Regions from separate parts of the Homo sapiens genome. Here regions 1, 2 and 4 are each linked to region 3. The links come from fine-mapping of genetic effects on plasma protein levels. A gene starts in region 3. Each other region holds a variant in brackets. All regions are shown on one strand. Distances are from middle to middle.

Region 1 (5,154 bases), 130 kb after region 3:
CTCCGCCTCCCTGGTTCAAGCAATTCTCCTGCCTCAACCCCCTGAGTAGTTGGGATTACAGGCACGTGCCACCACGCCCGGCTAACTTTTGTATGTTTAGTAGAGACGGGGGTTTCACCATATTGGCCAGGCTGGTCTCGAACTCCTGACCTCGTGATCCGCCCGCCTTGGCCTCCCAAAGTGCTGGGATTACAGGCATGAGCCACTGCGCCCGGCCTGGATTTTTTTTTTTTAATAGGAACTCTATATATTAAAGAAATTAACCTTTAATCTGTGCATCATTCAGGGTCCCCAGCAGGAAACAGTTTAATTCGAGGAAGGATTAATACAGAGATTATTACACGGGGTTAGGCAGGGAACGGTGGGGGCCCTGAGAGGGTAGTGCCTGAAGAATGCTACTGGGGGAAAGAGCTGCATGGAGAGGATTGCCTCAGAGGACACATCCCCATCTCCTGTGAGAGCCTCCATTCTATGAACCCGTCTAGGAGCCAGAGGGCCAGGGAGTCTGTGGATAGAAGCCCCACAGGTCAGCTTCCCCTCACAGAGCACGGGATGGAGGGGGACTGAAGGGGAGAACTGGAAGCCAACCGGCTTATGTTCCTTGTGTGTCTTCCAACTTGGTTATGATTCTTTGGAATGCAGAAATGATTGATTTTTATGCAGTGGAATCAGTCTTTTCTTTTGCCGCTTCTGGACCTGTGTCAAACTTAGAAAGGCTTTCTCCACTCTCATACTACTTTAAAAAAATCAATTCCTTGCCAGGTGTGGTGGCTCACACCTGTAATCCCAGCACTTTGGGAGGCCAAGGCGGGCGGATCACCAGGTCAGGAGATCAAGACCATCCTGGCAAACACGGTGAAACCCCGTCTCTACTAAAAAATACAAAAAATTGCCAGGTGCGGTGGCTCACGCCTGTAATCCCAGCACTTTGGGAGGCCAAGGCGGGCAGAACACGAGGTCAGGAGATCGAGACCATCCTGGCTAACGCGGTGAAACCCCATCTCTACTAAAAATACAAAAATATTAGCCGGGCGTGGTGGCGGGCGCCTGTAGTCCCAGCTACTCGGGAGGCTGAGGCAGGAGAATGGCGTGAACCTGGGAGGCAGAGCTTGCAGTGAGCCGAGTTTGTGGTGGAGGCACTGACCCAGAGCGCAGCCTGTCTGGTGTGCGATGGTTGCTGAAATTTGCCCAACTGTGCTCAGCTACTTGTTTTATCACTGTGGACCCCCAAAACTCTGGGCAGGGCCTCAGCTTCCCGCCCCCCACTACTGCTGTCCAAGGAGGTAGAGTTACCAGTCCAGGTCTCCCAGCCCTCAGATGTAACCATGGCCCGCCAGCAGGAGCAGAAGCATGCTTCCCAAACCTGCCTGATTACCCAGCCAGCCACCCCACTCCAGCCCCCACCTTGGAGGAAGCACTAATCTGGGGACTTTGAGATTCCATGATTCTCACGGCAAGAAGGACTCTCAGACACGCGAGCCAGCGGCTCCCTTGGCCCTGAGGGCACAGGAGATAGAGGCACACCTGTAAACACATGCCTGGCTACAAACACGCACATACCTGGCTGGCGTGCTGAGCCACCTGAACTGACACCTGGAGAACTCACGCACAGGCATCCACCTGACCACTCCAGGCCACATCTGCCCATGCGCATGCACCCGCTGAGAGCTGGCACTCACGTCTGTTGTTGCCTTATCGACACACCCGAGACTAGGGTTCAAAATGCGTGCCCACGCCTGCTCCCAGCCCCTGCCGGCCCACTGGCACTTTCAGCTGGGCCACCCCAGGTCAGCAAGGCCCAGGGCAGGGTCAGTTTCAGCCAGGCCCCCCAACTCTTCATATTTTCTAGCTGGGGAAATTGATGTCCAGAGTTTCTGGTCAGCAGCCAGCCTGGTGGGGACCCTCTGAGCTATCCTGCTAAGTGTGGATAGGCACGGTGCAAGAACAGCTCCTCATCTGCTCCTGGCCTCCTCCCTGACCCCTGCCTTTAAGAGCCCCCATCTGATGGTGGAGCTGCTGAGACCCCTGGAATGAGTGTGATTGTGTATGAGAGAGAGAGAGGAATGCGGGCCTGTAAGGGAAGTGTCACTACACAAATGAAACTGAGCTGAGTGTTCCAAAAATTTGGGGGGAGAGCATCCCCCAGCCCTCAACAGCATGCCCTGTGCTCTCCAGAGGCATTTCTGGGACCACACCCCTATCTGCAGCACAGGCGTTTTGGCCACTCTGAGCTGGGCCCTTCTCTCTCTCATGTTTTCTGGCTCAGCTGCTGGGTCCCTGATCACCCCTAGTCTGGCTCCTTTCCCTCAGCCTCTCATGCAGTTGGCCAGCATTCCTCGAGACGACTCCGGAACAGGCTACACACGGGGGACACAGAGATGAATGAGAACAGGGCCCTAGACTCTTGTGGGGAACCCAGCCCAGCCCCAGAGAGAGGGTCTGGGACCATCTTCTCTGAAAGAGGGGGCGGGGGAAGCCAGTCCAGGTGGTGAAAACAGGATGTCCCAAGGGTGGCAGGCCTGGAGTGCACAGAGGCCCGCCCCTTGAGCAGCATGGGGGTCTCCAGACTTCCCTGGGGCAGACGTCAGGGGGGCGGCGGCCTGTCCCACTGGGAGGTGAGTTTCCTTCCGGCAGCTCCTTCTCACGCAATGGGCGGGAAGGGGTTGGGGGCCCATTGTT[C/G]CCTGGCACGCTACCACCCCCAGCCCTCCCCAGCTTCTGGGTGGGGGGAGCAGTGGAAGGAAGTGGGCTGAGCCCAGGCCCTGGCAAGACCCCAGTGAGAGAGCGCAGGGTTTGGGGAAATGCTGGCTCACGTGTGGGCCTGGTGTGTGCACAGCTGCACATGCCACACGTGTGTCGGGGGTCCATCTTGCCCTGAGTCCACCTTTCTCAGGATTTCTGGTGTGTGTGTGTGTGTGTGTGTGTGTGTGTGTGTGTGTGTGTGTGTTGTACCCTGACCTGTAATTTGGCACTTTACACACATTATCTCATTAAACCTCCCACCCAACCTGTAAGATAAGATTATCATCCCCAGTTGCGAGATGAGAAAGTCTAGACTCAGAAAGTTTATGTCACAGGCCCAAGGTTAGTGGGTGAGCTGGGATTTTCTTCTGGATCTGTGAGCCAGCCTCTGGTCTCATCTCTTTTCCCTTTCCCAAGCCCTGTAATTATCTTAATACTGGCCTGGGGTGGAGGGGTAAATACAGAGGTGAAGGCCTGGGGGAACCTATTGAGTATCACCTATGCCACTATGTTATCTTAAACCCAGAAAAACCCGCTGGGCTGCAGGGCCCACAGGGAGAGTGCAGGTCCCTCAATGCAGAGCAGAGTCTGCTTCCCTTATTAGTGCAGGGTGATGGGCATCGGGCAGGCTCCTTGCCCAAAAGTGCCCCCCTCCGCCCCATTGCACTGCCTGAGAGGCTCCATCGCAGCTGTACTCCAGAGGACTCTAGTGAACCTGGTGTTATGTCATGGCAGAGGGGTGGACAGAATGCAGGGTCTCAGAACTAATTTTGAGGGGGATCACTAAAGAATGGGGAGCTTGGCTCAGGGTATGGCTACCTCTGGTGGCAGTCCCCTCTCAGGGACAGGAGCCAGTGATAGGGATAAGATATAGGGCAAGCTCATGGACTGACGCTGAACTGCATAAACCCTGGTCTAGTCAGCCTCTGCTTGGTTCCCCCACCCAGATGGTATACTCACTACCATTCTTTCAGAGAGTCTGCACCCTCCTCAGATTCCTTTGTCAACTGGAAAATCCTTCCTTGGGGGGCAAGTTACTTTAAGACTGAGATTTGGCTGGGCATGGTGGCTCATGCCTATAATTGCAGCACTTGGGGAGACCGAGGTGGGTGGATCACCTGAGATCAGGAGTTCGAGACCAGCCTGGACAACATGGTAAAATCCCATACTCTAATAAAAATACAAAAATTGGCCGGGCACGGTGGCTCACGCCTGTAATCCCAGCACTTTGGGAGGCCGAGGCAGGCGGATCACGAGGTCAGGAGATCGAGACCATCCTGGCTAACACGGTGAAATCCCGTCTCTACTAAAAATACAAAAAATTAGCCAGGTGTGGTGGCGGGCGCCTGTAGTCCCAGCTACTCAGGAGGCTGACGCAGGAGAATGGTGTGAACCCAGGAGGCAGAGCTTGCAGTGAGCTGAGATCGCACCACTGCACTCCAGCCTGGGCGACAGAGCGCGACTCCATCTCAAAAAAAAAAAAATTGGCTGGGCATGGTGGCACATGCCTGTCGTCCCAGCTACTTGGGAGGCTGAGGCAGGAGAATTTCTTGAATCCAGGAGGCGGAGGTTTCAGTGAGCCGAGATCGCACCACTGCACTCCAGCCTGGGCGACAGAGCAAGACTCCACCTAAAAAAAAAAAAGAGAGAGAGAGGCTGAGATTTATCTGGGCAGATCTGGGTGAGGGAGACCCCAGTGACTGAGTTCATTTGCATAGGGACTGAGTGGAATCCTGGGAGGGAGGTCACCCTTAGGGAAAAAAGAGCCAGGCAAGACCACCTGACCCAGTGTTCCAACCTTAGTTAGAGCAGTGTAAGCTGGTTTGCAATGGGGTGTGTGTTAAAGCTATTTCTAATTTGTTGTTAGGAGGTCTCAACCTGGGAGTCACGGGAAAAGATGAGAGCAAAGATAATTTTCTTTGTAGTGTGGGTGTGAGGAGAGGTGGGCAGAGCAGAAAAGTGACAAATGGAGGCTTTTGTGTGTTCCGCTAGCTTTCCGCTGTGCCATTGTTTCTTCCAGGACTTGTGTGCAGGGATCCCTTGCTGAGGTAGCTTAGACCCTGTGACCCTCACTCTGTTGCCTGTGGCTATTTACCAGGGTAAACATTGCTCCAAGGGGACCCAACCACTGACTGACTGTGGTCTCTGACCTGTGTAGCCTGGCTGAAAAAGATGAGCTGAGCCAATCAAACCCCTCTCTCAAGAAGCTGAAACTAGGCTGGGCGCGGTGGCTCACGCCTGTAATCCCAGCACTTTGGGAGGCGGGCGGATCACGAGGTCAGGAGATCGAGACCGTCCCCGGTGAAACCCCGTCTCTACTAAAAAATACAAAAAAATTAGGCGGGCATGGTGGTGGGCGCCTGTAATCCCAGCTACTGAGGAGGCTGAGGCAGGAGAATGGCATGAACCCAGGAG
Region 2 (5,154 bases), 610 kb before region 3:
GTGTGCCACCACACCCAACTAATTTGTGTGTGTATATATATGTGTGTGTGTGTGTGTGTGTGTGTGTATGTATGTTTGTTTATTTATTTATTTATTTATTTTGAGACAGAGTCTCACTCTCGGCCAGGCTAGAGTGCAGTGCCACGATCTCAGCCCACTGCAACCTCCATCTCCCGGCTCAAGCAATTCTCCTGCCTCAGCCTCCTGAGTAGCTGGGATTACAGGCGTGTGCCACCACACCCGGTTAATTTTGTATTTTTAGTAGAGATGGGGTTTCACTGTGTTGGCCAGGCTGGTCTCAAACTCCTGACCTCGGGTGATTCGTCCTCCTTGGCTTCCCAAAGTGCTAGGATTACAGGCGTGAGCCACCATGCCTGGCCTAATTTGTGTATTTTTAGTAGAGATGGGGTTTTGCCATGTTGGCCAGGCTGATCTCGAACTCCTGACCTCAAGTGATCTGCCCACCTCAGCCCTGCAAAGTGCTGGGATTACAGGCATGAGCCACTATGCCCAGCCTCCCTTGCAGTCTTGAATCAAGGAAATATGTTGGAGCAGGGAGGCATGCTAGGCTGATCTAAGAGGATGCACACTTATCCTGGGGATTCTTCACCTTGCTCTCGGTGCTTTTGCAACTACCAGCTGCTGTGAGGCCCTTGAGATGTCATTTCTACTATGGAGTCTCCCCTCCTCCATTAAAAAAGTGGGTTTGGCTGGGCGCGGTGGCTCACGCCTGTAATCGCAGCACTTTGGGAGGTTGAGGCTGGCAGATCACGAGGTCAAGAGATTGAGAACATCCTGGCCAACATGGTGAAACCCCGTCTCTTCTAATAATACAAAAATTAGCTGGGTGTGGTGGCACGCACCTGTAGTCCCAGCTACTTGGGAGGCTGAGGCAGGAGAATCACTTGAGCCCAGGAGGCGGAGGTTGCTGTGAGCCAAGATCATGCCACCGCACTCCAGCCTGGGCGATAGAGCAAGACTCTGTCTCAAAAAAAAAAAAAAAAAAAAAAAAGTGGGTTTAGATCGTCTTGTTGCCATCATCCAAACCAGCTACCATTTGACAATCAGAGAACAGATCTCTCATCTAATGAGAGGACTTCCTAGTCTTGCCTATTGAATGACTGATTCCCCACTTTATGATTTAGAACCTAGAATCCTCATCAGCTCCAAGCCTCTGACTTACACCAACTCCCAGTAGAGCTACTTACAAAGAACAAACTGTGTCTCCCTTGGAATTCTGGATTATGAAGTGGCTATCAGTGTATATTCACTCTTGCCCAGGATTCCCCTGGACCAAGAGACTTTCTTTCCCTTTTCTCTTTTTACTTTTTCTTATAATTGTAGATTCACCTGCAGTTGTAAGAAATAATGGAGACAGATTACATGTACCCTTTCTACAGTTATCCCATGATAACATCTTCCAAAACTATAGTGTAATATCACAGCCAGAATGTTAATATAGATACAATCCACCAATCTGATTTAGACTTCCCCAGTTTTACTTCATTTTTGTGTATTTAGTTCTGTGCAGTTTTGTCACACATGTAGGTTTGTGTATCTGTCACCATAATCAAGATACAGAGTTCTGTCACCACAAGGCTCCCCTCGTTGCCCTTCATTATTTTTATTTTACACTTGATCTTAGCCAAAAGACTGAGAAGCGATCAATATTTTTATTTTTATTTACTTATTTTTTTAAGACAGAGTCTTGCTCTGTCACCCAAGCTGGAGTGCTGTGGTGCAATCTCAGCTCCCTGTAACCTCTGCCTCCCAGGTTCAAGCGATTCTCCTGCCTCAGCCTCCCAAGTAGCTGGGATTACAGGCGTGCACCACCATGCCTGACGAATTTTTGTATTTTTACTACAGTCAGGGTTTCACCATGTTGGCCAGGCTGATCTCAAACTCCTGACCTCAGGTGATCCACTCACCTCGGCCTCCCAAAGTGCTGGGATTACAGGTGTGAGCCACCGTGCCCAGCCTCATTGCCCTATAGTAAACATATACCTCCTTCCCACCACCTCCCCATTCCTAACCCCTGCAACCACTAATCTATTCTCCATTTCTCTAATTTTGTCCTTTCCAAATTGTTGTTATATCAAGTAACATTACATAAAATGTAAAAAAATTACATACATACTGTATGTAATCTTTTAGGATTGGTTTTATTCACTAGGCATATTCGTATAGGAAGGGAGAAATATATATATATATTTCTCTGAGATGTGGTCTCGCTCTGTCGCCCAGGCTGGAGTTCAGTGGCGTGATCTCAGCTCGCTGCAACCTCCGCCTCATGGGTTCAAGTGATCTCCCGCCTCAGTCTCCCAAGTAGCTGGGATTACAGGTGCCTGCTACCACGCCCAGCTAATTTTTTTTTTTGTATTTTTAGTAAAGATGGGGTTTCACCATATTGACTAGGCTGGTCTCCAACTCCTGACCTCAGGTGATCCGCCAGCCTCAGCCTCCCAAAGTGCTGGGATTACAGGCATGAGCCACTGCGCTGGGCTGAAATTTTTTAAGATTTTACAGACAACTATGTTCCTACCACAGAATCAACACTGACTCTTGTTAATATTTTGTTATATTTGCTTCATCTTTTTTTTTTTTTTTTTGAGACAGAGTTTTGCTCTTGTTGCCCAGGCTGGAGTGCAATGGTGTGACTTCAGCTCACTGCAACCTCC[G/A]CCTCCTGGGTTCAAGCGATTCTCCTGCCTTAGCCTCCCAAGTAGCTGGGATTACAGGTGCCCGCTACCAAGCCCAGCTAATTTTTTGTATTTTTCATAGAGACGGGGTTTCGCCATGTTGGTCAGAGTGGTCTCGAGCTCCTCACGTCAGGTGATCCACCCACCTTGGCCTCCTAAAGTGCTGGAATTACAGGCATGAGCCCCCACACCTGGCCTTTTTCTTTCTTTTTAAGAGAGACATGTGTTCTTGCTCTGTCGCATAGGTTGGAGTGCAGGTGCAGTGGCACTGTCATAGCTTATGGCAGCCTTAACCTCCTGGGCTCAAGTGATTTTCTTGCCTTAGCCTTCCTAGTAGCTGGGACAAGAAGTATGGGGTGCCACACCTTGCTAATTTTTTTGAAGTTTTTGTAGAGATGGAGTCTTGCTCTGTTGCCCAGGCTGGTCTCAAACTCCTGGGCTCAAGTGATTCTCCCACCTCAGCCTCCCAAAGCACTAGGATTTTAGGCATGAGCCACTGTGCCCAGCTGTCTTTTTAATTATTATATGAGAGAAAGAATTTATTATAAAGTTGAAATTCCTTCTAATCCGCATCCTTAGTTCTCCCCACTCATCATAAGCAGCTACTAGTATGAATATGATATTTCTTTCTAGTTGATTTTGTTTATACTGTTATATATGCATAAGCACTCATGAACAATATAGAGTATTATTTTATATGTGTGACCTTTGTAATTTCTTTGCTTTCAGTTAATATATGCAAATAATTTTTTTCAAAACCAAACAGTTCTAAAGAAGACAAGCAATGACAAAATAAATAGCAAATTCCTATTTTACCCTCAGTTCCATTACCTATAATCATGTATTCAACTCTTGTAGCTGTTTCCCCTGGTATTTCATCCCTAATTCTAAATTAAAATGCTTATAATATGCCAGGCACAGTGGCTCATGCCTGTAATCCCAGCACTTTGGGAGGCTGAGGTGGGTAGATCGTTTGAGCCTAGGATTTCAAGACCAGCCTGAGCAACATGTAGAGACAGGTGGAAACCCTGTCTCTACAAAAATTACAAAAATTAGCTTGGTGTGGTGGCGTGTGTTTGTAATCCCAGCTACTTGGGAGGCTGAGGTGGGAAGCTCACTTGAGCCTGGGACGTTGAGGCTGCAGTGAGCCAAAATTGTGCCACTGGACTCCAGCTTGGAATACAGAGCGAGACCCTGTCTCAAAAAAAAAAAAAAAAGTTAATAATACTTTTAGTGACTTTTATTGTAGGTGCTCATTTAGCTCTTATACTATGTCTCCACTTTCATTTTGACTACTCTTCCAATAATTATATGTAACATTCTTAAATTGAATCGTCATTGTACATTATTATGACTATGTAAATTATTTTTACTGGAGAGCTACATGGGCTACTATGAAATGATCAAATATATTAACAATTTTTTTTTTTTTTTTAATTTTTAGAACAGATGGGATTTCACCATGTTGGCCAGGCTGGTCTCAAAATCCTGGCCTCAAGTGATTCACCTGCCTCGGCCTCCCAAAGTGCTGGGATTACAGGTGTGAACCACTACGTCCAGCCTTTTTTTTTTTTTTTGAGACAGGCTCTCACTCTCTCACCCAGGTTGGAGTACAGTGGCTCTATCTCAGCTCACTGCAACCTCTGCTTCCCAAACTCAAGCAATTCTCTCACCTCAGCCTCCAGAGTAGCTGGGACCACAGGCATGCTTCACCACGTCTGGCTAATTTTTTGTATTTTTGGTAGAGATGGGGTTTCGCCATGTTGCCCAGGCTGGTCCCAAACTCCTGAGCTCAGGCAGTCCACCTGCCTCAGCCTCCCAAAATACTGGGATTACAGGAATGAGCCACTACACCTGGCCTAATGATCTTATCAATTCAATTTTTTGTTTCTTCTGGAGTTAATTACCAGATTTTTTCATTTCCTTTAGTTTTCTGTATATGTTCCTCATTCTTTTTCTTTTGTTTTTTATTGTTGTTGTTGTTGTTTTGTTTTGTTGTTGTGGTTGTTGTTTTGATGTTGCCCAGGCTGGAGTGTAGTGGCGCGATCTCGGCTCACTGCAACCTCCACACCCTGGGTTCAAGCGATTCTCATATCTCAGCCTCCTGAGTAGCTGGGATTATAGGCACCTGCCACCTTGCCCAGCTAATGTTTTTTGTTATTTTTAGTAGAGACATGGTTTCACTATGTTGGCTAGGCTGGTTTCGAACTCCTGACCTCAAGTGATCTGCCCACCTTGGCCTCCCAAAGTGCTGGGATTGTAGGTGTGAGCCACCGTGCTTGGCCCTTCATTATTTTTCTATATGCCCAATCAGATTTATTTTACAGTGTTATCATTAGTTTCCAAGTGATTGAATGTATCAGATAATCAATTGCATCTATTTTTTTTTTCCTGAGACCTCACTTTCAGAACTTTTTCTTTCATTCTAGTCTAAACTGTGGTTGGTTATTCTCTAGGC
Region 3 (5,130 bases):
AATGTTCATGCCATCATGGACATACAGGGAGGCAGTAGACCCAGGCCCTTGTCCAGACTCGGCCTCTAGCCATCTATGAAGACTTGGACTAGTTATTTCCCTTCTTTAGATGTATCTTCTTTGTCTGTCCAAAGAGGAGAATGACATCTGCACTGTCAAGGTAGCAGAAAAACTATGACTCTTAAATGATTCTTTCAGGGGTTAACATACATCTTCCAGTTTCAGAAGCAGAGGCGAAAGCCTTCCTATGCTTTGGCTTTTTCTCCACTAAATAGGCAGGAGAAATATTTTAGGTTAATAAAAATGCAAAAAAATAGTCAAAGTAAAAAAACTTAATTGTCAAAGAGGGCTGAATTAAAATTCACTAAGTGCTAAGAGTGGTTGGGGGAAGGAGAGTGCTGGAAATCCCAGCCTATTATGACAAAACCTCTCTTCTTTTTGATAACACTATCTAGTCCATTAGCCTGAAGAGCCAAGTGGGTCTCCTCCCTCCTTGCTGCCTCACCCTTCCCAGCTGATTCTTATGACTTGCCTCAGGCCCTTTCTCCTGACCTGCGGGTAAAGTGGGCTGAAATACAGCCCGGGGCTCACCTCTGCATAAGGCTTGTCCTCTGCGATCTGGGCCAGTGGATCACTGCTGGCCAACAGCCGCGCCACTTCGCTGTTGGAACCCATCTTCCCCCAGGCATACTGCTGCACCGCACAGGAAAGTGGGAATACTAGGGGCACAGACAGGGTCAGCTGCCACTCCACTCCTCAGGCCCCACCCTAGTGTCCCGGGAAACCAGGCAAGAGCTGGGGGTGCTCACTGGGGACAGAGTCAAATAAGGGTTTTGTAGGCTGTTGGATGAGACCCCCCTCCGCTGCAGGCCTCGATGTTCCCAACTGTCAGATGGGCAGCAGTAAGGACCTTGTGCTGATCTGAGGCAGGGTGGCGGGGAGGGAGCAGAAGGTACCTATCCCACGGCACGACGTCTAGAAGGGCCCCCTCCCCTCGGAGGTCAATCCCCATCGCAGGTGGCCACACCTCTGCCCGGCACCCACCCATCTTTCCGCGGAATGCCAGGAGCGGACTCAACCTGGCCGATAATGCCGGGAGTCGTCCCCAGGACGCGCTCCACGAACACACTCGCCGACACCCCAGCCAATGGCTCACCTCGCGGAGCGGCCATGCTCGCCCCCTGCACCAGGATTAAGCACGTATGCCTTTCCCGGCAGCCCCCGCGGCCCTCTGCGCCCAGAGCTTCACGGGAAATGTAGTTCCCTGAGCGTTCCGCCAGGCCCCGGGGCACCCGTGCCCAGAGGCTTACGGCCGCGATCTTCGGTCTCACTATTCATTCATTCTTTCCATCGCCGGGCACAGATGTACTGAAAACCTGCTAAGTACCACGGACTGTTCTAAGGGCTGGAGGATACATCAGAGAGCAAGATAGCCTTCCCTCTGCCTTTGTAGAGCGCTTACATTCTGGTGAAGGCAAGACAGACAAGTATTGTAAGCAAATCATGTAGTATGTTGAAAGGTCAAGGCCACAAAAAGTAAGGGGGCAGGTGGCAGTGGGAGGCAGTTTGCAGAATATAAAAGGCTGTCTGGGCAAGCCTCTTGAGGAGGTGAGGTTTGAGTCCAGACTTGGCGGTGAGGAAGGCAGGAGTGTTCTGCGGGGAGGAAACAGCCACAGCGGAAGCCAGAGCAAGGCGGGAATGTGGGACTGTGCCGGGCGTGTTGGGGAGGGAACTGCTAGCAAGGAGGCCACTGTGGCTGGAGCAGAGTGAGTAAGACAGGGGCAGTGAGGAGGTCAGAGAAGAGAGGAGGGGGGCAGAGCTTTGCAGGCTATTGCTATTGTGAAGACTTTGGGTTTTACTTCGAGTCTCAGCAATTACAGATTTGAGCAAAGAATTGCTGTGATGTGAGTAGGGACATACTAGTGATGATGATGGTAAATGTCACATGCAAGGCCCTTCACTGCTCTGAGCTTTGTAGAATGGGGTGAATAATGCCAGCCTGACATGCTTGTTGGAGGGTCAGATGGGATGACGTGAGACACCTATAAGGCAGTCAGCTCCCTGTGCTCCTCTGATCCTTCCCGTCCCAGGTGCTGTAGAAAGTCAGAACCCCAACTTCTACTCCAGGCTGAGCTGCTTACAAGTTGCACACACAGAAGTCAGGGGAATTACGAAGAGCTGTGCATAGGGAAGGATGGCCTTGGGCCTTGGCTCTGCAGTAATCTTGGCTATATCCTGTGGTGAAAGGCTTTGACATCCAGACCTTCTCAGTCAACAGCCTCCTAGGAGGAGGACAGTCAGTGGCTCAGGCCTGTAATCCTAGCACCTTAGGAGGCAGAGGCAGAAGGATTGCTTGAGGCTAGGAGCACAACAGTCAAAGCTCCGGGGAACCTGGAATGAGGAGTTACAGTCCTGACTCTACCCTCATCACCCCTGCAATACCCTCATTCCCACAGCCTCTACCATATGTGCCCAGGGGAAAGAGCGGGTGCCGTTTTCCCTGTAATCCTCTGCCCAGGTGTGGGTATCTATCTCACCTCCCCTGGGGTCCTCTGGCTCAAATAAATCAGCTTGCATTTTAAAGGAAGCTTTACCATGCACTAAGGAATAATAAAATGGATAATACAAGACTCATGACAGCCCCCCGCCTGGCCAGCCGCCCCGTCCGGGAGGGAGGTGGGGGGGTCAGCCCCCAGCCCGGCCAGCCGCCCCGTCCGGGAGGTGAGGGGCGCCTCTGCCCGGCCGCCCCTACTGGGAAGTGAGGAGCCCCTCTGCCCAGCCAGCTGCCCCGTCCGGGAGGGAGGTAGGGGGGTCAGCCCCCCGCCCGGCCAGCCACCCCGTCCGGGAGGTGAGGGGCGCCTCTGCCCGGCCGCCCCTACTGGGAAGTGAGGAGCCCCTCTGCCCGGCCACCACCCCGTCTGGGAGGTGTACCCAACAGCTCATTGAGAACGGGCCATGATGACAATGGCAGTTCTGTGGAATAGAAAGGGGGGAAAGGTGGGGGAAAGATTGAGAAATCGGATGGTTGCCGTGTCTGTGTAGAAAGAGGTAGACATGGGAGACTTTTCATTTTGTTCTGTACTAAGAAAAATTCTTCTGCCTTGGGATCCTGTTGATCGGTGACCTTACCCCCAACCCTGTGCTCTCTGAAACATGTGCTGTGTCCACTCAGGGTTAATGGATTAAGGGCGGTGCAAGATGTGCTTTGTTAAACAGACGCTTGAAGGCAGCATGCTCGTTAAGAGTCATCACCACTCCCTAATCTCAAGTACCCAGGGACACAAACACTGCGGAAGGCCGCAGGGTCCTCTGCCTAGGAAGACCAGAGACCTTTGTTCACTTGTTTATCTGCTGACCTTCCCTCCACTGTTGTCCTGTGACCCTGCCAAATCCCCCTCTGCGAGAAACACCCAAGAATGATCAATAAAAAAATAAAAAATAAATAAAAAAAAAAAAGACTCATGAAACAACGTACTCAATACCTCGTGCTTTGGAATACCACTCCTTTCCCTCATCTCCACTACCCAAGTGATATGATTTGGCTCTGTGTCCCCACCCAAATCTCATCTTGAATTGTAATCCCCACATGTTGAGGGAGGGACCTGGTGGGAGGTGATTGGATCATGGGGGTGGTTTCCCCCATGCTGTTCTCATGATAGTGAGTGAGTTCTCCCAAGAGCTGATGGTTTTAAAGTGTGGCACTTTCTCGCTCTCTCTCCTACTGCCATCTAAGATGTGCCTCGCTTCCCCTTTGCCTTCTGTCATGATTATAAGCTCCTGAGGCCTCCCCAGCCATGTAGAACTGTGAGTCAATTAAACCTCCTTTCTTTTTTTTTATTTTTTCTTTTTGAGTATTGAGTCTTGCTCCGTTGCCCAGGCTGGAGTGCAGTGGCATGATCTCAGCTCACTGCAAGCTCTGTTTCCCAGGTTCAAGTGATTCTCCTGCCTCAGCCACCCAAGTAGCTGGGTGCACACCACCATGCCCGGCTAATTTTTGTATTTTTAGTAGAGGCGAGGTTTCACCATTTTGCCCAGGCTGGTCTCGAACTCCTGACCTCAGGTGATCCACCTGCCTTGACTTCCCAAAGTGCTGAGATTACAGGCATGAGCCACCGCGTCAGGCCAAACCTCCTTTTTTTTTTTTTTTTGAGATGGAGTCTCACTCTGTCACCCAGAGTAGAGTGCAGTGGCACGATCTTGGCTCACTGCAACCTCCGCCTCCCGGGTTCAAGCGATTCTCCTGTCTCAGCCTCCCAAATAGCTGGGACTACAGGCACGTGCCACCATGCCCGGCTAATTTTTGTATTTTTAGTAGAGACGGGGTTTCACCATGTTGGCCAGGCTGGTCTCAAAATCCTGACTGCAGGTGATCCACCCACCTCAGCCTCCCAAAGTGCTGGGTTACAGGCATGAGCCACCATGCCTGGCCCAAACCTCCTTTCTTTATAAATTACCCAATTCAGGTAGTATCTTTATAGCAGCATGAAAACGGACTAATACACCAAGCAATAGGAACCTTCTCAGATAAGAACGAGGGACTAATGAGGCTCAAGGAGTTCTTGGAGCACTCCCCACTACCACTACCACAGAAAACAGAGTCAGGGTTATTTGCTCATAGTATCCCTGCAAAGTGAAGGAAGAACTTAGATTGTTGGGAGATACAGACCACCCCCCAACCCCATGCCACCCTCCCCCAATACAGAAAAACTTATCTGTAAGAGAAACTAGGGTGTTTGGAGAACCTAGAACCTTCTACTTCTTCCCTCTTGCTGGTCTATCTTGAGAAAAGAGATTTTATCTGAGGAATGTGCATCCTTTTATATTATCAGGCCCAGAGAGACATTGATATGGAGGACAGACCCTTCTTAGGTGCCCCTCTGGCCCGCAAGTATGGAGATAAAGGGAAAATTTTGAGTCCCTTCAAGGGAGATTTCAGGAACTAGCTAGCCCTGCACCCAGCAATTAGGGAAGTAAATGAATAACCCACCAAGGAAGAAGGTAATAGTAACTTAAGCAGCCACCCAAGTAAGCCAGAGTCACAAGATGTTTAGTTCTCTATAAAAACTAAAGATAGGGGCTGGGCGTGGTGGCTCATGCCTGTAATCCCAGCACTTTGGGAGGCCAAGGCGG
Region 4 (5,154 bases), 700 kb before region 3:
GCCACCACGTCCAGCTAATTTTTGTATTTTAAGTGGAGACAGGGTTTCCCCCATGTTGGCCAGGCTGGTCTTGAACTCCTGACCTCAGGTGATCTGCCCACCTTGGCCTCCCAAAGTGCTGGGATTACAGGCATGAGCCACCGCGTCTGGCTGGAATGATGTCTAAAATTTTTATTGGGGCTCAGTCATGTGGACCTGATTGTCTGCCCATGTGACTGACCTCAGTCTCCAGCCCCTCCATAAGTCTACCTGATAAAGTGTGATCCAAAGTCTTCCCTCCTCCCTCATCACATTGCTAAACTATCTGGTACGCCCCAAAGACTTCTGCCTAAATCACATTGTTAGACTGTCCAGTGTGGCCTAAGGTCTGCCTCCTGGTAAACAAAGATACTTTTATCAGGCAAGACATTCCAAGGGCTTAGAGGTTACCTCCCAGGAGCGAAGGGCAAAGGCCAGAACACTCTTTGCAAGGTTAAGTTCTTTACTACATACTCCTTCTATTAGCTAGCAAGTTCCATGAGGTCAGGAACCTGGTCTTCCTCATCTTTAGGTCCCCAGTGCCTGGCATTATGCTTGGCACTTGTTACGTCAATAACTTTTAGTTGAGTGAATGAAGAAATACTAAGGTGGAATGAGAATGCACCCTGGAGGAGAGCCCCTCCTCTCTGCTGCTGCACAGAGGAGTGACCTTGCTGAGAAAGCTAAATGGAGGTGTGTGGCAAGCTGCTAACAGGTGCTTGGATATACTGCAGACTTTTAGGAACAAGAACTATATTTAGTTCTGTGTACGTGATTAAAAGGATAGCTTAAAAACTAACTTTGTACATTGGAAAAGGGAAAGGCAATCACCCTAGCTGTCCTTTCTAATAAAGAAATGAGACTGGGCATGGTGGTTCACACCTATAATCCCAGTGCTTTGGGAGGCCAAGGCAGGAGGATTTCTTGAGGCCAGGAGTTCCAGACCAGCCTGGCCAACAGAGCGAGACCTTGTCTCTACAAAAAATTTAAAAATTAGTTGGGCATGGTGATAGGTGCCTGTAGTCCTAGCTGCTTGGAAGGCTGAGGTAGGAGGATCTCCTATGGCCAGGAGTTAGAGCTGCAATTAGCTATAATTATACCATTGCACTCTATACAGATAGATATTTTTTAGAGATGGGATCTCAACTACATTGCCCAGGCTGGTCTTGAACACCTGGGCTCAAGCAATCCTCCCATCTCGGCCTCCTGAGTGTCTGGGGCTACAGACGTGCACCACTGTGCCCACCTTTCTTTCTTTTGGCAGGGTGGGGTGAATCTTTTATAGCCAAATCATCTTTTTTTTTTTTTTGAGATGGAGTCTTGCTCTGTAGCCCAGGCTGGATTGCAATGGTGCAATCTCGGCTCACTACAACCTCCGCCTCCCGGGTTCAAGCAATTCTCCTGCCTCAGTCTCCTGAGTAGCTGGGATTACAGGCACGCGCCACCACGCCCAGCTAATTTTTGTATTTTTAGTAGAGATGGGGTTTCACCACATTGGTCAGGCTGGTCTCGAACTCCTGACCTCGTGATCCACCCGCCTCAGCCTCCCAAAGTGCTGGGATTACAGGCGTGAGCCACCACGCCCAGCCTCATATCATCTTTATAGCACAACACAAGTCTCTTTTATAGGCAGTAGAAATTTTGGAGCAATGTTTGAGAGGAGCTTTGGATTTTAGAAATAAAAATGTTTGGTGGAGAAGGTTATAAAATTCCAACTCCAGCATTGGAAGTATGTCTATTCTTAAACCCAAATAAATACAACAAAAGAGAGGGGAAAATGGTAAGATATGTCTCATAGATAAAGTGGCCATCTTCCTTGATTCAGTCATTCAACACATTTATCAAGGGATTGCCTACTATGTTCTAGGTTCTAGGTGCTGGGAGTTCAGGGGCCAACAGGACAGATGTGGTTCCTGCCATCCTGAAGCTTACAATCTAGTAAGGCACACAAACACTAGGCCAATGAATGTAGAAACAAGTGCATAATTACAAATTGTGATCAGCTCTCTGACGAATAAAAGGGTGCTATGAGTCTCAGAAAGTGCAGTTCAGTTTAGAGAGTAATCAAGGAAGATCTTGCTGGGGAAGTGACTTTTGAGCTGAGACCTTAAGGATGAATCAGATATGTCTGGTGAAGAAGGTGCTGGGAGGGGAGGATAAGCTTTCTAGACAGAGACCTGAAACTTATGCTATTTTTTTTCTTTCTCTTTTTCTTTTTTGTGGGTACATCACATAGTAGATGTATATATTTATGGGTCACATGAGATATTTTCATACAGGCATGCAACGCATAATAATCACATCAAGGTAAATGGGGTATCCATCCCAGGCATTTATCCTTTGTGTTACAAACAATCCAATTATATTCTTAATTATTTTGAAATGTACAATTAAATTATTTTGTACTATAGTCACCCTGTTGTGCTAGCAAATACACCTTACTCATTCTTTTTTTTTTTT[C/TC]TAATTTGAGACAGGGTCTCACTCTGTCACCCAGGCTGGAGTGCAGTGGCGTGATCTCAGCTCACTGCAACCCCTGCCTCCCAGGCTCAAGTGATCTTTTTTGTATTTTTAGTAGAGACAGAGTCTTGCCATGTTGCCTAGGCTGGTCTCAAATTCCTGAGCTCAAGCCATCCACTTGCCTTGGCCTCCCAAAGTGCAAGGATTATAGGCATGAGCCATTGCACCTGGCTCTTATTCATTCTTTCTATTTTTCTGTACCCATTAACCATCCCCACTTCTCCCTCACCCCCCACTACCCTTCCCATCCTCTGGTTACCATCCTTCTACTCTTTATCTCCATGAGTTCAATTATTTTAATTTTTAGCTCCTACAAAATAAGTGAGAACATGGGAAGTTTGTCTTTCTGTGCCTGGCTTATTTCACTTAACATAATGACCTTCAGTTCCATCCATGTTGTTGCAAATGACAGGATCCCTCTCTCTCTTTTTTTTTTTTTTTTTTTTTGAGACAGAGTCTCACTCTGTCACCCAGTCTGGAGTGCAGTGGCACAATCTTGGCTCACTGCAACCTCTGCCTCCCAGGTTCAAGCGATTCTCATGCCTCAGCCTCCCAAGTAGCTGGGATTACAGGTATGCGCCACCACACCCGGTTAATTTTTGTATTTTTAGTATTTTTTTAAACAGAGACAGGGATTCATCATGTTGGCTAGGCTGGTCTTCAACCCCTGGCCTCAAGTGATCTGCCCCTCGGCCTCCCAAAGTGCTGAAATTACAGGCGTGAGTCACTGTACCCGGCCTCATTCTTTTTTATGACTTAATAGTTCTCCATTGTGTATCTGTGCCACATTTTCTTTATCCATTTATATGTTGATGAACACTTAGGCTGCTTCCAAATTTTAGCTATTGTGAATAGTGCAGCAGTAAACATGGGAGTGCAGATGTCTCTTCAACATACTGATTTCCTTTCTTTGGGGTATATACCTAGGAGGGGGATTGGTAGCTTTATTTTTGGCTTTTTCTTTTCTTTCCTCCCCTCCCTCTCCCCTCCCCTCCCACTCCCCTCTCTTCCCCTCCCCTTCCTTCCCCTCCTCCCTCCCCTTTTCCTCCTCTCCCCCCTCCCCTCCCCTTTCCTTCCCTCCCCTCCCCTTTTCCTCCCTTCCCCTTTTCTTCCCCTCCCCTTCCTTCCCCCCTCCTCCCCTCACCCCTCTTTTCCCCTACACCTTCCCTCCCTTCCCTTCCCCTCCCCTCTCCTCCCTTTTCAACAAGGTCTGACTCTCTTGCCCAGGCTGGAGTGCAGTGGTGTAATCACAGTTCACTGCAGCCTTTATTTCCCAGGCTCAAGTGATCCTCACACCTCAGCCTCCCAAGTACCTGGGACTACAGGTGTGCATCACTACTCCTAGCTGATTTTCTTTATATTTTGTACAGATGAGGTCTCACTGTGTTGCCCAGCCTGGACTCAAACTCCTGGAATCTTGGACTCAAGTGATCTTCCTGCCTTAGCCTCCAGGCATGAGCCACCTCACCTGGCTATATTTTTAGGTTTTCTTTAGGAACCTCCAAATTGTTCTCCATAGTGGTTGTACTAATTTATATTCCCACCAAAAGTGTATGAGGGTTCCCTATTCTCCACATCCTTGCCAGCATTTGTTATTGCCTGTCTTTTGGATAAAAACCATTTTAACTGGGGTGAGATGGTATCTCATTGTAATTTTATTTTATTTTATTTATTTATTTATTTTGAGATAGAGTCTCACTCTGTTGCCCAGGCTGGAGTGCAGTGGCGCAATCCGCCTCCCGGGTTCAAGCGATTCTCCTGTTTCATCCTCCTGAGTAGCTGGGATTACAGGTGTGCACCACTGTGCCCTGCTAATATTTGTATTTTTAGTAGAGACGAGGTTTCACCATGTTGGCCAGGCTGGTCTTGAACTCCTGACCTCAAGTGATCCACCTGCCTCGGCCTCCCAAAGTGCTGAGATTAAAGGCATGAGCCACCATGCCTGGCCTCATTGTAGTTTCGATTTGCATTTCTCTGATGATCAGTGAAGTTAAGCATCTTTTTATATGCCTGTTGAGATTTAAATGTCTTATTTTATAAAATGTCTGTTCTGGGCTGGGTGTGGTGGCTCACGCATGTAATCCCAGCACTTGGAGAGGCTGAAGTGGGTGTATCATCTGAGGTCAGGTGTTCAAGACCAGCCTGGACAATATGGTGAAACCCCATCTCTACTAAAAATACAAAAATTAGCTGGGCATGGTGGTGGGCGCCTGTAATCCCAGCTACTCAGGAGGCTGAGGCATGAGAATTGCTTGAACCCAGGAGGCGGAGGTTGCAGTGAGCTGAGATCGCATCACTGCACTCCAGCCCGGGTGATAGATTGAGACTCTCTCTCAGAAAAACAAAACAAAACGTCTGTTTTGGGCCGGGCGCGGTGGCTCACGCCTGTAATCCCAGCACTTTGGGAGGCCAAGGCGGGCAGATCACCTGAGGTTAGGAGTTCGAGACCAGCCTGGTCAACATGGCGAAAGCCTGTCTCTACTAAAAATACAAAAATTAGCCGGATATATATGTAGAAAGCTGAAACTGCATCCCTTCCTTACACCTTATACAAAAATTAATTCAAGATGGATTAAAGACTTAAATGTTAGACCTAAAACCATAAAAACCCTAGAAGAA

Direction of the effects. Positions count from the first base shown, and alleles are read on the strand shown. Strength reflects both the effect of a copy and how common the allele is.
As copies of G replace C in region 1, the plasma level of the protein whose gene starts at base 1,204 in region 3 goes up (strong association).
With allele A in place of G in region 2, the plasma level of the protein whose gene starts at base 1,204 in region 3 is lower (moderate association).
In carriers of allele TC in region 4, the plasma level of the protein whose gene starts at base 1,204 in region 3 tends to be higher than with C alone (weak association).

Evidence for each region. PIP is the posterior inclusion probability: the model's chance that the variant is causal. The UK Biobank Pharma Proteomics Project read protein levels with antibody pairs (Olink). The fine-mapping took linkage between variants from a reference panel, not from the people measured, so its PIPs are less certain.
Region 1: its variant is fine-mapped to the plasma level of the MPI protein (UK Biobank, PIP above 0.99).
Region 2: its variant is fine-mapped to the plasma level of the MPI protein (UK Biobank, PIP above 0.99).
Region 4: its variant is fine-mapped to the plasma level of the MPI protein (UK Biobank, PIP 0.91).

The regions. Positions count from the first base shown.
Region 1 is chr15:74,760,051-74,765,204 of GRCh38, reverse strand. No RefSeq gene overlaps it. Among named protein-coding and RNA genes, the nearest start is that of CYP1A2, 14 kb to the right of the region's middle. RefSeq lists a cis regulatory region at 1,473-1,571 and an enhancer at 1,464-1,578. The variant C/G (reference allele first, on the strand shown) is at 2,680.
Region 2 is chr15:75,495,258-75,500,411 of GRCh38, reverse strand. All of the region lies in intron 7 of PTPN9 (protein tyrosine phosphatase non-receptor type 9), which reads left to right. LOC105370902 (a long non-coding RNA gene) reads right to left here. Exons shown (of 4, transcript XR_932482.2): 3 at 1,209-1,350. Among named protein-coding and RNA genes, the nearest start is that of SIN3A, 46 kb to the right of the region's middle. The variant G/A (reference allele first, on the strand shown) is at 2,679.
Region 3 is chr15:74,886,116-74,891,245 of GRCh38, reverse strand. It overlaps MPI (mannose phosphate isomerase), which reads right to left and starts at 1,204. Exons shown (of 8, transcript NM_002435.3): 1 at 1,157-1,204; 2 at 592-719. The coding sequence starts at 1,172. RefSeq lists enhancers at 878-957, 755-1,288, 1,078-1,377, 1,538-1,587.
Region 4 is chr15:75,587,405-75,592,558 of GRCh38, reverse strand. No RefSeq gene overlaps it. Among named protein-coding and RNA genes, the nearest start is that of PTPN9, 11 kb to the right of the region's middle. The variant C/TC (reference allele first, on the strand shown) is at 2,479.